Homo sapiens: one gene and its partner. The protein of the gene in region 2 purifies or fractionates together with the protein of the main gene of each other region. This does not show direct contact. Each region holds a gene or a part of one and is shown on either strand. Other genes may lie near its edges. The genes, in order: PLXDC2 and SSC5D.

Evidence for each region.
Region 1: the proteins of SSC5D (region 2) and PLXDC2 purify together in Homo sapiens (affinity purification with mass spectrometry; one large-scale study listed by BioGRID and IntAct). This does not show direct contact.

What each region holds. Positions count from the first base shown.
Region 1 is NC_000010.11:19,822,758-19,826,579, reverse strand, and holds part of PLXDC2 (plexin domain-containing protein 2 isoform 1 precursor), read right to left. Parts: intron 1-3,822. UniProt on the Homo sapiens protein: May play a role in tumor angiogenesis.
Region 2 is NC_000019.10:55,512,330-55,516,151, forward strand, and holds part of SSC5D (soluble scavenger receptor cysteine-rich domain-containing protein SSC5D isoform 1 precursor), read left to right. Parts: intron 1-681; coding exon 682-843; intron 844-3,822.

The DNA of each region.
Region 1 (3,822 bases), on a different chromosome or scaffold from region 2:
ACTAAAATGTGAAATAAAATTTGTTTTAACCTCACAAGTCAACTTGATTTTCACAGGGCATCCACAGTTTTCAAAGTATTAAAATATTCTTCAAATTTTTCTTGTATGACAAAAAAACTAAAATGACCCTCCTGTTTCTGCTCCAAACAAGCACCAAGAAAAAAAGTGCAAAGACACAGTGGTATGTCTCTTAGTTCAATTTTTGTTTCCTGGAATTAGCAAATTAAAGGGCTAAATGACAACAACAAAAAATTCAAAGGTGTATATTCCCAGGACCTATATAAATAGTAAATAGAATTAAAATGGCTAATATCAGAAGCAATAATTCTTGAAAGAATTATGGACAGGCAGTACATTTTGGGCAATCTTAAACATAAAACTACGGACTGGCAAAATAATTAGGAGGTTGAATGTTTTTAAATTAAAAGTTCAGGACAGCATTCCTTGAAATCACAGGAACCCATATCCACTAAGAACATGACTCAGTTTGCCAAAAATTATTTCATATATACTTTTCATTGGGATATTTTGCAATGCAGATTGCATTTATGTAATTTATATATAGACATTTTTCAATGAATTGAAGAGAAAAGATAGCAAAAGGAGAAGGAGAAGAGAAAGCCAAAAGGAGAAGTCAGCTGAAATACCAGACTTGCTCCCGCCAGCTATGCCCACAGGAAGGTGAGTGGGCCCTTTTGACCAGACAAATGAACAAAAAGACAGCATATAAATAACCAGGTTCATTAGGTCAGCGGTAGCTACAGTCTAAGTTTGTATGTTGGAAAGAATTCAGCAAATAGATATAATAGATTCAGCATGAGCAGTACCTGAAATGTACCTTAAATACTTTCCCATCTTAAAACTCATCATTATTGGTACATTTCATGCTCTAAATGATAAATTCTGCCTGTCCTACTTCCCTTTTAGGCTTTAGGGAAATAAATATTTTATTGGATGTTCATATAATGGTTTCAGACAGAAAATGGTAGGAGTTACTACTGTAAGCAGTTGCTACTGTAAGCAGATATCTGTAACTACTACCCAAAAAACATTATCGAATGTTCAATGTTCCATATTCCAGCTGGACCCAAGAATACAGTATCCTAAGCAAAATGAACCAGAGTGTACTTACCAAGCATCATACTCAAAGAGAATATATCAGTTTTATTTAGACTTTTTGTATCACTGAACACTCCAAGGAATACATAGAGAATTGACTTTCAAATATTCGGATTCCTATGCAGTTTTTCCATAGGGCAAACTCTTAACATTCTCTCCATATTCTCAAAGCCTCAATGAGCTACACACCTTACCTACAGGACGAGACCTCGAACAACATGGATTCTAAGGAAAATGTCCAATTATTGAGTAAAAAATAATTGAGGAACTGAGTAATAAGATTCCAGACAAGTAAAAAGGAAGTCAGTCTGCATCTTGGCCTGTGACCCTCTCTTGACAAAATTCACAGACCACTAACTATGATAAGGCCTCAAGCAGAAAGAGTGAGGACAGCCTATTTTAATTTGAAGGGTAAGGTAAAGGTACCAGCGCTTAGATCTGGTTTGATGGCCTCTGACAGAAGAGATTTAAAAGTCTGGATATCCAGTAACGTCACTTAGTGTCTGACCCCATGTTCAGATCTGTAATCCTTAACAGGCTAATTCCAAACAGGCCCCTGACAAGACCTCTAATTCTATTTAAATATACAAATCTATACCATCATTCCACAGCTTACCACCTTTTTAATTAAAAAGAGGAAAATAAAACCAAACAATAAATATGAAATGAGTTCACTGTCTGGTTATAAACACATGTGGAATATTTTATATTCTCATCTTTTGTCAGCTATTATCCTGTTAATGTATAACACAATAAATAGTGGAAGAAACTTTCTTAATAAAAGCATCACTACTTAGCCTGTCATTCTCTAGTAACTTCCTCAGCTTAACAGAATCATTGTGTGGGAGGCAGTGAGGGAAGATATCCTGTGTGAACTCAGTGAAGAAAGACCTCTCAGAATGGAGTACTCTACAGAGATAATTACAGCTTTGGGAAAATGTGCTCAGAATAAAGCCAAAGGGCTGGAATTCATCAGATTAAGAGAAAGTGGAAAGCAACTTAGTGATACACAACCTTATGTATTATGGCGATTCAATTTTATTTGCTTTTTTCCCATCTCCAAAACAAATACCAAACAAGATTTTAAGTGAGAAAAGGTAGAAAAGGTAAGATGAAGACATAGGTAAGCTAGCACACAAATGTAGGCCAGAAGGTTTATATGCTTGTTGGAGGTGGGCCACAAATCTTGCACTGAGATTTCAAGAAACCAAAAGTTAAATGGTAAAACTCCTAGGTACTATTTATAATGTCCAGAAGACACAAACAAGTTCAAAAGAACTATGTCTGTTATTGAAACATAAGGTCTCTCACCCTGTCTCTGTCTCTTTCTCTTTCTCATTTTCTCATGGCATAATATCTTGGGGAGCAGACACCGTGAAATGTATTGCAGAATATCCTCATCTGCTTCCCTGTAACAGCTCCCACAGCAAGATTTTTTATTATTTTACTTTTTGAGACAGGGTCACACTCTGTTGGCCAGGCTGGAATGCAGTGGTGTAATCACAGCTCATTGCAGCCCTGACCTCCTGGGTTCAAGTGATCCTCCCACCTCAGCCTACCAAGTAGCTGGGACTACAGGTGTGCACCACCATGAACAGCTAATTAAAAACAAAACAAAACAAAACAAAAAAACTGTAGAGATGAGGTCTCTTCCCTATGTTGCCCAGGCTGGTCTCCAAATCGTGGACTCAAGCAATCCCCCTGTCTCGGCCTCCCAAAGTGTTGGGATTACAGGTGTGAGCCACTGAACCTCACCTCAAAACAAGTTTTATGAGAATTTTTTTTTTTTTGAGATGAAGTCTTGCTCTGTCGCCCAGCTGGAGTGCAGTGGCGCAATCTCAACCTCCACCTCCCGGGTCAAGCGATTCTCCTGCCTCAGCCTCCTGAGTAGCTGGGACTACAGGTGCATGCCACCATGCCTGGCTAATTTTTTTTATTTTTAGGGAAGACGGGGTTTCACCATGTTGGCCAGGATGGTCTTGATCTCCTGACCTCTTGATCTACCCACCTCCACCTCCCAAAAAAGTGCTGGGATCACAGGTGTGAGCCACCACGCCCAGCCGAGACAATATTTTTACAGCCTCCTTCATTATAGTTTAGTGACATGAGGCCTAAAACAGTTTAATTCAAAAAGAATCCCACAAAGAACCAAAATTATTTAATAGTCTTCATCTTCAGTGAAATGAAACACCACCACCACCATATATGTATGCATATGTACATATATATGTATATCATATTTTAAGATATTAAATTAAAAGCATAAGTAAACATCCCAGCACTTTGGGAGGCTGAGGTGGGTTGATCACGAGGTCAGGAGATCGAGACCATCCTGGCTAACACAGTGAAACCCCGTCTCTACTAAAAAATACAAAAAATTAGCTGGGCGTGGTGGCGGGTGCCTGTAGTCCCAGCTACTTGGGAAGCTGAGGCAGGAGAATGGCGTGAACCTGGGAGGCGGTGCTTGCAGTGAGCTGAGATCGCGCCACTGCACTCCAGACTGGGAGAAACAGCGAGACTCTGTCTCAAAAAAAAAAAGTAAGTAAACATCCAGAAAGAAACTAGCAGTATAGGAAAATAGTGGAATAAACTTTTTGAAAGTCCTATCTATCAACAGAAGGCTTAATGTAAATAACTGATATTAAAATAGGCAAAGTGCCTAAAAAAGACATTTCTCCAAAGAAGACAAAAAAAATGGCCAAC
Region 2 (3,822 bases):
AAATTGCTATTATATAGAGATTAAGTGCATTTGGCCAAAAAAAAAAAAAAGGAAAAATAGTATTATAGAGATGTTCCAGGCAGTGAATTAATAAAGATGTTATGGTTTTTCCCCCGCTAGGGCAGGAGCCTTGAGGAATTAAAATAATAAATTCCTTTTTTTTTTTTTTTGAGGCGGTGTCTCGCTCTGTCACCCAGGCAGGAGTGCAGTGGCACAGTCTTGGCTCACTGCAACCTCTGTCTCCCAGGTTCAAGTGATTCTCCTGTCTCAGCCTCCCGAGTAGCTGGGATTATAGGCGTGTGCCACCATACCCAGCTAATTTTTTGTATATTTAGTGCAGATGGGGTTTCTCCATGTTGGCCAGGCTGGTCTTGAGCTCCTGACCTCAAGTGATCTGCCTGCCTCAGCCTCCCAAAGTGCTGGGATTACAAGCTTGAGCCACGGCGCCAGGCCCAAATGCCCTTCATTTTATGTGCTAGTTTAGTGACCGTTTCCGTCGTTGGTAGCCAAAAACATCCCAGCTGAATGGAGAAGGTCTCCACGAGGTCAGGTAGGGCTGCAGTGGCGGTGCAGTTGAGACGGGATGATGCCTGAACTGGGGCTGGCCCAGGAGGAGAGAGACGGGGAGTCAAACTCAAAGGGAAGTTGGAAGACTCAATCCTCTTCCCCATATCTCTCTAGGCAGCAAAGATGGTTACAAGCTTCCCTGGACGTGGGACACACCATCAGGAAGGGGCCTGGCTGAGGGGACCCCTACCGCAGGCAAACTAGGACCAACTCTTGGGGCTGGCACCACCAGGAGCCCAGGCAGTCCTCCAACTCTGAGAGTCCATGGAGACACAGGTGAGACACGTGGCTGGGGTGAGGAGACTGGGACGGTATTTGTCCTGGGGTAAAGAGACAGATTCCAGACTCCCCACTGGAACCCTTACCCCAGAAAGACTCAGCAGAAATATACCCTAAAACAAAGGGTTATCGGCTGAGCATGGTGGCTCATGCCTGTAATCACAGCACTTTGGGAGGCCGAGTTGGGAGGATTGCTTAAGCTCGGGAGTTTGAGAGCAGCCTGGGCAACATGGTGAGCCCCCCAAGATATGAACATTAGCTGGGTGTGGTGGTACGCACGTGTGGTCCCAGCTGCTTGGGAGGCTGAGGCAGGAGGATCCCTTGAGCCTGGGTGCTCGAGGCTGTGGTTGTGCCACTGTATTCCAGCCTGGGTGCCAGAGCGAGACCTTGTCTCAAATAAAGACAAAAACAGAACCAAGAGGTTATTATCTAGACCGCTGGTCATCAACTAGGGTCGATTTTGCCCCCAAGGGGAATTTGGCAATATCTGAAGATATTTTGGATTGTCATGGCAGGAAGTGAGAGGCTACCCATTGGCACCTGATCGGTAGAGGCCGGGGTGGTGATAAACATTCACAATGCACACGACATTCCCCATAACAAAGAACCACCCAGCCCTAAATTACAATAGTACCGAGGTTGAGAAACCCCAGCCTAGATGGCATAAGTCACTGTGACAAATAGGAAAATGATAGGAAACCCTAGATGAGAAAGAGGAAAACAGGTGATTCCCAGAAAAGGAAGCCCAAATGGCTGAGTGTATTTAGAAATGCCCACGCTCATCAGGAACCAGAAAATACAAATTAAAACAATGGCAAGTACAGAGGAGAATGAGAAAGGTGGGTATTATCCAGTGTGAGTGAGGATGTGGGAAGACAGGCAACCCCACTGGACAGAGCTGTTTGATAAAGACAATCCAGCAGTATTTAGTAAAGTTAAGCATGATTAGGCTGGCTGCAATGGCTGACGCCTGTAATCCCAGCACTTTGGGAGGCTGAGGCGGGCAGATCACGAGGTCAGGAGATCGAGACCATCCTGGCTAACACGGTGAAACCCTGTCTTTACTAACAATACAAAAAATTAGCCAGGCGTGGTGGTAGGCACCTATGGTCCCAGCTACTCGGGAGGCTGAGGCAGGAGAATGGCGTGAACCCAGGAGGCAGAGCTTGCAGTGAGCCGAGATTGCGCCACTGCACTCCAGCCTGGGCAACAGAGTGAGACTCTGTCTCAAAATAATAATAATAATAATAATAATAATAATAATAATAATAATAATAATAATAGGTGTGGTGGCAGGCGCCTGTAATCCCAGCTACTCGGGAGGCTGAGGCAGGAGAACTGCTTGAACCTGGGAGGCGGAGGTTGCAGTGAGCTGAGATCGCACCACTGCACTCCAGCCTGGGCAACAGAGAAAGACTCTGTTAAAAAAAAAAAAAAAAGAGAGAGAGAGAAGAAGGGAGGAAGGGAGAAAGGAGGGAAGGAAATCTGCATGAGCTCCATGACGTAGATCTATAATTTTGCCCATTTCTCAGATGAGTGAAATTGAGGCACAGACATCAGTGACTCTGACATCAATAATTATTAGAGTGCTTATTCCATGCTAGACATTACACTAAGTGCTTTGCACAACCATGGTCTCCCTGAGTCCTTTTGACAGCTCTGCAAGGGAGATACGCGGATCATCCACAGTCTATAGCTGAGGAAGAAACTGAGATTCAAGCAGTGAAGTAACTTGGCCGTGGTCACCCCGCTAGGAAGCCATGCAGCTGGGGTTTAAACTCGGACAGCCTGCCTTGAGCACAAGCCCTTTACTTAACCGCTTCTCCAATCCTGCAAACAAAGGACAAGGTGGGGAAGGGATGCGCCTGAAAGACCCTGCCCTGCAGGAACAAGTGGAAATCTGTAGATCTGTGTGGTTCAATACGGTAGCTAAGAGCACCGGGCATGGTGGCTCACGCCTGAAATTCCAGCACTTTGGGAGGCTGAGGCAGGCAGATCACCTGAGGTCGGGGGTTCAAGACTAGCCTGAACAACATAGTGAAACCCCATCTCTACTAAAAATACAAAAAAATTAGCTGGGCATGGTGGCACATGCCTGTCATCCCAGCTACTCAGGAAGTGGACACAGGAGAATCACTTGAACCCAGGAGGCGGAGATTGCAGCGAGCCAAGATCGCGCCACTGCACTCCAGCCTGGGCAACAGGAGTGAAACTCCGTCTCAAAAAAAAAAAAAAAAAAAAAGTTAAATGAATTAACACTTTGAAAATGAAACATTTGCCGGGCGCAGTGGCCACGCCTGTAATCCCAGCACTTTGGGAGGCCGAAGCGGGCGGATCACGAGGTCAGGAGATCGCGACCGTCCTGGCTAACACAGTGAAACCCCATCTCTACTAAAAATACAAAAAATTAGCAGGACATGGTGGCGAGCGCCTGTAGTCCCAGCTTCTCGGGAGGCTGAGGCAGGAGAATGGCATGAACCTGGGAGGCAAAGCTGGCAGTGAGGCGAGATCGTGCCACTGCACTCTAACCTGGGCGACAGAGTGAGACTCCGTCTCAAAAAAAAAAATAAAATAAAATAAAAGAAAATGAAACATTTAGTTTCTCATTCACACTGGCCGCATTTCAAGGGCTTGGTAGCCACATGTGGCCAGTGGCTACTGTATTGGCACGGTAGATCACAGCGCATTCCCATCACTGCAGATGTGAGATTTCATTGCCTAGACTCTATGTGCAAACAACTTGGGTTCAAGTCTTAGCCCTGCAACTTGCAAACTATGTCTGTGTGACCTTGGGCGAGTCACCTGCCCTCTTGCCCTAATTTCCCCCTTCTGTAAAATGGGGATAAAATTGGCACTCACTTGGAAGACAGCCCCAGAAGAGGGTCAGGCTCCTCCTGCTACTCAGGCCCAAAATTTAAGGGGGTGCCCAAAACGCCAAAATCAAGATACATAATATCATAATACAGTATTTTTTAA